Linked DNA regions of Homo sapiens: region 2 is linked to region 1. A link means that fine-mapping ties the variant in region 1 to the expression of a gene that starts in the linked region. Tissue or cell type: whole blood. Region 1 holds a variant in brackets; the other region holds the start of a gene. All regions are shown on one strand. Distances are from middle to middle.

Region 1 (4,520 bases):
TAAAATGTAAATTAAATGCACATTTTTAACTCATTGAATTGGCAAAAAAAAAAAAAAAAGTTCAAAAGCTTAACAATACGCACTGTTGGTGAGGCTAAGGAAAAAGGCTCTCTGGTACATTGCAGGTGGGACTGTGATACGGCACAACCCCTGTGGAGATGAACTCAGCAACATCTAACAAAACCACGTATGCATGTACCCTTCCACTCAGCAATTCCACTTCTGTAAATTTGCCCCAAATATATCCCTTCCACTACGTAAAAATACAAATGCCCAAGGTTATTCATTGCAGCAATTTTTTATAATTGCAAAATATTGGAAGCTACCTAAATGCCTAAGTATAGAGTACTTGAATAAAATATGGTACACACATGCAATGAGGTACTAAGCAGATATAAAAAGTATGCGGAAGATCCCTGTGAAATGATATGGAATGATTTCCAGGAGACGCTGTTAAGTGAAAAGGCAAGGTACAAAAGAGTATATAGAGTGGGATATCTTTTGTGAAGAAAGAAGGGAAATAATGAGACTTGAGTATTCTTTTTTTTGGGGGGGAGACGGAGTCTCGCTCTGTCGCCCAGGCTGGAGTGCAGTGGCGCGATCTCGGCTCAATGCAAGTTCCGCCTCCCGGGTTCACACCATTCTCCTGCCTCAGCCTCCCGAGTAGCTGGAACTACAGGCGCCCACCACCATGCCCAGCTAATTTTTTGTTTTTGTATTTTTAGTAGAGACAGGGTTTCACCGTGTTAGCTAGGATGGTCTCGATCTCCTGACCTCGTGATCCACCCATATTGTCTCTACAAAGACAAGCTTCTTGAGCTTCTCTCTACAAAAAGAAACATGGGAAGAAAAATCCAAAAAATCTTGTAGTTGTTTTCCTCTAAGGAGTATGAGGGAATAGGATGGAAAAAGCACGCTTTTCTTTTTAATTCCCTCCCTCCCTCCCTCCCTCCCTCCCTCCCTTCCTTCCTTCCTTCCTTCCTTCCTTCCTTCCTTCCTTCCTTCCTCTCTCTCTCTCTCTCTCTCTCTCTTTCTTTCTTTCTTTCGACAGAGTTTCACTTTTATTGCCCAGACTGGAGTGCAGTGGTAGATCTTGGCTCACTGCAACCTCTGCCTCCCAGGTTCAAGCAATTCTCCTGCCTCAGCCTCCCGAGTAGCCGGGATTACAGGCACTGGCCACCACACCCAGCTAATTTTTGTACTTTTAGTAGAGATGAGGTTTCACCATGTTGGCCAGGCTAGTCTCGAACTCCTGACCTCAGGTGATCTGCCTGCCTCGGCCTCCCAAAGTGCTGGGATTACAGGCATGAGCCACTGGGCCCAGCCTGAGCATGCTTTTCTATATTGTTTTGACTTTTGAAAGCATGTTCACATTCTACCTGGCAAACAATAAAATTAAATCAGTAATGAAGCTTAACACCCAGTACCTATTTGCCATTCTTTGGGCAACCATGCCCTGCTTTTTTGGGGGGAAAGCACGCATCCCACATCCTTTTCCCATGTGTGTTTCATGGGCCCCACCCATATGTGGGGTGGGCATGTGACAGTCCTGTCCATTCGGAGTACCACATTTCTCTGGCCATGGGGCCTGGCCTAGGGGTGGGCGCTTAACACAACTGAGTCAGTGATTTTTCATAGCCTTTAGCTGCCACTGTTAGAGGCCATCTTCCTCTTTTTCCTTGCACTAGCATCTGGGAGGTAGTAGACCTGGAGTAACCAGCAGCCCTCTTGGCATCATGTGGAGCCTTGAAATGAAGCCGAAATGGAAGGAAGAGAGCAATGCTAAGAGGGGAACAGACCAGTTCCTGAAATATTGTTCAAGCCCCTGGATCAAGCCCCTGCCCTTTTTAATGAATTGCATGAACTAATTATTTCAAGTTCTTGCCTATGCCTGCTTGAGTTAGGTTTTCTGTAACATGCATTCAAACCATCTCAATGGATACATTAGTTCAAATCTCTCTATTATTGGTGTGGAATCTGAGTCTCAGTAGAGTGAAAGCACAAGCCCAAAAATCATGCTGGAAGATAATAGCAAGGGCGGCGCTAAGACTCAGAACCTCTGGCTCCAAGTTCAGATTACACAGTCAGTGTGGCAGACGGCCTTCACCTAGGGGACAACTTATGTTCCAGGTGGAAGAGAAAGAGACAGAAAGCAAGCTAAGCCCCCTCGTATGGCCTAATATGTCCCAGACCTCCAGACTCAGGGTTTATGAGAGTTGAACGAAGTTTCTGTTATTACAGGTATCAGCCATCAAGATGTGCACAGAGAAAACTCAGCAACTGGGAAATCAGCTGCATGGTAGCAAGATACACAGACTTGGAGTCAGAAGATGTGGGCCCAGACCCTGATATCCACCCACTCTTGTGGGTGGGCGCCTTCTGAATGTGAAGGGAGGCTAATAATAGTGCTCCTGGGAGTCCAAAGACTGATGCTTTGGAGAGGCCTCTGTAAGCCAGCATCCTCCTCCAGCAGTGCTCAGGCCTGGAAACAATCCACAGGCTGTTTAAATGGCCATCACAGAGGTTTTTTTCAAGGCAGAATTCTGCCTTCTCTTGACAACAAACAAGCAAGACTTGAGAACACCTGGGGAGAACTGTGACCTACATGCCTTTTTGTCCAGGCAGGAGAGGCTGACGCGCCCTCAGTTCTCCTTCACCCACCCCTACCCAGTGCAGCTAGAAACCTGG[G/A]GGTGTGTTCCAATGGCCATTTAGGGTCCGACACTGCCATGGGCCTCACACAAGAGAACTCTTGCTCTGCAGCCAGCTGTCTTCCAAAGCAGGGAAGCAAAGGATTCACCCAGAGGGCCATGCGAACTTCCCGCCCTGGCTTCCAAGCTGGTCACCCGCCTCACTCAGCACATGACCGCCTGGTCCAGGGGAGGCCTCTGAATTCACAGGCATAACTGTAAATGCAAATTCCCATGTAAAGCTCATGGATGAAAGGAAGGAAATGAGAATTAGGACTCAAGTTCTGTTGGGTGAAATGTAAAACCTGGGTATCTACTCTGATAAGATTAAAGTGAGTAATTGGCAGGTGGACCAGTGGTGAGCTTCAGGGATCAAGAACACAGGGAAGCAAGTTTAGAGGCCAAAAAGGCAGCCACTGGGTGCTAAGCAGGGGAGAACTAGTGATGTTGACTGCCTATGGCCGGGTGAGGGCCGAGGACGAGCCTCCCAATGCTGGGCACAGGTACAGCTGCTGACGTTGACCACTAGGTACAGGAAACCAGGCAGACCTTTACAAAGGCTGGGCAACATCCTGGTGAGCTCCCATGTGGAACCCACAAGAAGCCACGTTTAGTCTCACAACATTTATGGGGAAATTCCCCTGAATTGACGTTTAAGCTTTAATAGAGGAAATCAACATTCTCAGTAAATCTGGTAAAAGGTCTATGGAAACTTTGTTAAATTTCAGCCAGAGACACCCCCAATGGCTGGTCCAGCCAGTGCTGTCCATTATGCAGCTCATTCCATACAAAGTCCTTGTTCTCAAACTTGGCTAAGGCCTCCTATGAGAGAACACCTTCTACACCAGAAGGTATAATTAGATGCCCTATGGTAGCTTTTAGCCCATGTTTTGAAAATCAGCGAGGTGCCTGAGCTGAGGTGGCTGGCGGATGTGCATTGAGGAGATAGGCTGACATGGGGTGTGTTCATTAAGTTATTCAACAAGCATTCATTTACTGGGTATATAGAGTTTCCAAGCCATCATGCTTAACACCGTGGAGCCCAGAGCAATGGATAAAATGGAGCAAGTCCATTTTGCTCCCCATGGAGCATGTCAGAGGCCAGTTGGGGCCAAGTGTGTGTCTGGGAGCAGGAGGGCAATGGCAATCGGGATGCCTGTGAGATTTCCTGCTGTACTTCCTTGGTGGGGCCAGACCAGAGAATGTTGCCTATTGAAAAACATTTCTTTGTAAGGGCTTTGTAAGCAGACATCTCCAGCTGGGAGCAACTGAGGAATTTTTTAATCAGAGCCTTGATCTGCTCTTGCGGCACTGCCTGAGGCTAGCAGTGTCCCTATAACACCAAACTGAATTCTAAAAAGAAAAAAAATCAACTGATTGCTTCCAAATACTGGGATGCTTATGGGGGCATGTGTGTGTGTGTGTGCGTGCGTGTGTGTGTGTGTGCCACCATGCCCGGCAAACTTTTTTTGTATTTTCAGTAGAGACAGGGTTTTGTCACGTGGACCAGGCTGGTCTCAAACTCCTGACCTCAGGTGATCCGCCTGCCTCGGCCTCCCAAAGTGCTGGGATTACAGGCGTGAGCCACCGGACTCAGCCAGGGCTCTGTTGTTATCCCCACATCATGCCCTTCAAGTATGCCATGCTGCCGGATGTCAGGAACCAGGCTCCAAGGGGTGGTGTCTTGGCATGACTTAGACAACCAGAGACAACAACCCCAAAACAGACCTCTGGCCTTTCTCTCCTCCTCCATCTGCCTCCTGCCAGAGAAACCAAAAGAAGAACTTACTTATAAAGGCAGTCATGGGTCTTTTCACTTGTGGCACTGTGATG
Region 2 (4,243 bases), 22 kb before region 1:
CCATTTTTGTTGTATAAGCATAATCAATGAAAAAGTATAATTATTGGGCTGGAAAATAATAAGTATCTACAGAACATGCTGAGAGCTGTTTTAAAAAAAATGCTTAAAGGAACAATATATGTCACTTTCGAGGCACCTGATTCGTTTATTGGTATAGCATAACTCTCCTACCCACGAATCTCAATCACCATTTACTTCTCAAAAAATAACTACGGTATGACTTTTCATTGGCACTATTCCATGGATCAACAGGAAAAAAAGAACGCCTAGAGACTGCTGTCCCTTTTTTTCTTGACAGAGCTTTCAAAGACCTTGGGGGTAAATCTCGCAAGAATTCTGTCCAATAAACAAGCTCATGCGTTACCGAGTTACGTCACCAGCTGACATCCAAGGAGAAGTCCAAGGTTAATTGCTATGGTTTAGTGGACCATTCCAAATGACCCTGTGCAAGAAGCTTTCACTCCAGAACTGTTTGAACTTCACAGCCTGAAATTTCATCTACTTGTTTCATGAGTACTTTTTAATTACTCCCCTGGGGGTATTAATAATGTTTTCTTTATTAAATAGTTACTCTCTGGAAGGGATAGTGGTTTCATGTTTTTCCCCGTTCTTTGAGATAACTAAGTCCCTGCCTGGTTAGCCCAGGGGCACTTTGATTTTCTTTATCTTAAGTTATTAAGGGAGAAAACAGAGATCAAGATAGACCTCTAACAACTCAGGATTTGGAATCAGACTGCTTCGTTCAAATCCCAACTCCACCATTTAGCTAGCTGTGCAAAAGTGGACAAGTTATTTCCCTCCCTAAGGCTCAGTTTCCTCACCTGTAAAGTAGGAATAGTAACAGTACTAATCCCTAAGTCCATTCTTCCGATGGATGGAAATGGATAATGTATGTAAATATTTACCTTGGAGCTTGGCACGTGGTGAGCATTCAAAAATTGTTTTTACAATATTTTTAAAAATACTATTGTTTTGACTATGAGAACAATTTCGGAATTGTTGTGTTCTCTGATCCCACAGTAAGTAAGGTACCAATGAAGTAGGAATATTTAACACCTTACTTTTATACACAATACAATGCTCTGAGGCAGCAGCACCATCCCCGTCATGCATAACTCATGAAGTGCTGGGCTGAATTCACAGAGCACCTTTGCAATTTATAGGGCAAAAATTAGGTGCCGTGAAGAATACACAGAAGTATGGATACAGCCACTGCCCCCCAGGGAACTGACCATCCAGTTAGGAGACACACACACAAAGAGATCACCGCAATGATGCCTTGTACTGTTAAGTGGCCAAAGACGTACAGTTTCTTATAGTATCTTTTATGGTGGGCAGAAGAACGCCCTGCATTTTGGGGAAAGCTACAAGTGCAGAGATTTGCCCCCGTGGTAAGACAGCAAATCAGTGAGAGCTACAGAGTAAGGTTGTAATATCATATTCATTTGGGTTAAAATGGAGGTGCTGTGGTAGCAGTGGCCTGACTTAAAGAAGGACCAGTGATATCAAACAGTAGCTGCTTGGCTTTGGAATGACACCATCATTGCCATCTTAGAATCTGAGAATGTTTCAGTCAAGAGGAAACCTTGAAAAAGCCTCCTTGTCACTCAGTCCACTTACAGTAGGAGCAGCAAGGCCTGTTCTTACACATGCGGGCTCCGGCTCATGCATCCACCTGATGCTCTCAAGGCTGCCAGAGGAAGGAGGAGGAGGGCTAGGGGAGGAAGCCAAGGGTATCCCACAAAGGAGATGACCACTGATAACTACCATGGATGAAATGGCCTAAGTCACTTCTGTGTCTTAGCCTTTCCTTTCAAATTGCCCCCTCCCCCTCCCATGTATCATGGGCATCACAGTCACAAAACACAAGAAATCAGAAGTCTGGAGACATTCCCCCTGTCCAATGCCCAAATCTAGGTCCCTGTTGCTTTCTTCCTGACCTGCTGGCCCACAACCACAGGTGGCCTCCAGAATTAATCCAAATGAGAGTCTCTGCCCTTCCAAAACATCTTAAGTGGATCATTCATCTCAGGCCACCTTCAGTGACAGGAAGGGGATTGAGGTCTGCGGAGAGCAAAACCTAATTCGGCCCTGTACCTGGATGCGGATGGGGTGGGGGAGGCGCGACGGGAGGCTGGGTACTCCAAGTTCAGCTGCGGGAGACGCCCCTCGCCCCCACCTGGCAGCCACAGAGGGTCGCCAGCCTAGGGGAGATGGTTCCTGCTGTCTTCAAATGAGCCCACCAAACCCCAGCCCGTGGGTATCGCAGCACCTACCTTGACCCAGGAGACCGTGTAGGGAACCTGCGGATCCCAGGGGGCGGTGCAGGGCAAGTCCACATCTTCGGAGCAAGCCACCTTCACCTCCGGCGTCGCGGGAGCCAGGCTGTAGGCTACAAGAAAGAGAGAGCGCGTCGTGAGCAAGCGACCGACGGGAGGGGGTGTCGTGGAGGGGCGGGGGGCGACAGGCGAGACAGGCGCTCGCGAGCCCTACCGCAGCTCAGGAGCAGAAGCTGGAGGCCGCGCGACATGGCTGGAGCGCTGCGCCGCTGCCACGAGCTGCAGAGCTGTGGCGCGCGGGCGCCGGCTGCCCTTTTATGCCCGCGCGTTCGGGAACTTCCCTGCGCGCCAGCCCGGGGGATTCCCCGGCGGGCAGCGGAAGCGGGTGGCGCGCCCTCCTAGTCCCGCTTAGGCCGGGGCGCCCCCGTCCCCGCCCCCTTCGCCCCCGTCCCCGCCCCCGTCCCCGCCCCCGTCGCACCCGCCGCCCTCGCCGCGTGCGCGTCCCCGCCCCCGCGCGCCCGGGCCGGGCGCCCCGAGTTCGCGTCGCTGCTGCGGCTGGCAGCGGCGACAGCAATCCCCGCGTGACGCCCAGCGCTGGGGGCTTTGCAGACCGCGCTCGCGCGCGTGACGCTGCCGTTGACCCGCAAAAGGAAGCCGGGAACCGGGCCATCCGAGCGGGATCTGCCCATTTTACGGAGGCCAAACCAGATTCCGAGAGGGTGGGCAACTTCCTCAGAAGCCCAGCCTGTCCTTGGGAACGCACTGGTGAACCCAAGTCCTCACTCTTCTCCAGAATCTGTGATAATCAAAGGCGCGTTAGATTTCCATGGAAACATACAAGTCTGTAGTACTTGGCTCCCTGCCTTCCCCGGGAGGTTATCAGTCAGTACCGTCCTGTTTAAATTATATCACCAAAGGAGAGTGTCTCCTATTAAAATAATAATTACACGCATACACAACATTTTTGGAAAAGAAAATTCTAGAAGACAATGAAATCACCTGTAATTCATCCAGGAAGTAACTTCAGTTAACATTTTTTTATATTATAAAATGTTTATAACATAACATAACGTAAAATATTTATAACATTTGTCAGTGCACAGATTGGTATTTTTAATGGTTTATTCTTCCTGCTATCTTGTAACCTACTTTCTTTTAGCTTAATAATTTGCAAGCGGTTCCACATCATTAAAAACTTCCAACAGCATCATTTTGGTCCATTGTTCAGTTGCACCATAAATTAGAATCGATTAGTGTTAGACATACAGGTTGTTTCTTTTTGTATTACTAATATTAGAAACAATACTGTGATTGCTATGGGAAACTTCAGTGTAGATAAATCTTTGCTCTAAAATTGCTTATTTTCTTAGAATAAATACCTCAAGGAAATTGTGCTAGGTGAAGGGGAGTTTCCAATTTTGTCAAATATTGCCAAAAAATTACCTGCAAGGAGGTGTCTTCAATCTATATTCCCATCTGCAAAGAGAGTGCCTGTTTGCCAACACAAACTGTTATCCAACCTTTCTATCTTTGTCCATCCAAGAGGTTAAAAAGAGTGGCATCACTATACCACCAGTTCTAATCTGCTCTTGGAAGTAGTTATATCAATTGACAGTCCCGCCAGCTTGTGTGAGTACCTTTTCTCCAGCAGCCTCACCAAATTAATTTTTTAATTGTGAAAATGTTAAGCATACAAAATAAGTATAGAAAATATGGAATTGAACACATCTGTATACAATTTATTCTTGAGAAATAAAACAGTACTAACATTTTCGAGACCCTCTTTTTTTTTTTTTTTTTTTTTTTTTGAGACGGAGTCTCGATCTGTCTCCCAGGCTGGAGTGCAGTGGCCGTGATCTGAGCTTACTGCAAGCTCCGCCTCCCGGGTTCACGCCATTCTCCTGCCTCAGCCTCCCGAGTAGCTGGGACTACAGGAGCCCGCCACCACGCCCGACTAATTTTTT

The links. PIP is the estimated chance that this variant, and not a neighbour inherited with it, causes the effect.
Region 2: it holds the start of CD83, and the variant in region 1 is the best candidate, but not a certain one, in a credible set for the expression of CD83 in whole blood (INTERVAL, PIP 0.89).

What each region holds. Positions count from the first base shown.
Region 1 is chr6:14,094,331-14,098,850 of GRCh38, reverse strand. It overlaps LOC105374939 (a long non-coding RNA gene), which reads right to left and starts at 217. Exons shown (of 3, transcript XR_926500.3): 1 at 84-217. RefSeq lists enhancers at 3,364-3,493, 4,387-4,516 and a cis regulatory region at 3,015-3,515. The variant G/A (reference allele first, on the strand shown) is at 2,689.
Region 2 is chr6:14,116,099-14,120,341 of GRCh38, reverse strand. CD83 (CD83 molecule) reads right to left here and starts at 2,570. Exons shown (of 5, transcript NM_004233.4): 1 at 2,494-2,570; 2 at 2,277-2,392. The coding sequence starts at 2,530. RefSeq lists cis regulatory regions at 1,273-1,773, 1,241-2,067, 1,638-2,138, 2,304-2,959, 2,143-2,959 and 1 more and silencers at 2,703-2,822, 2,950-3,244.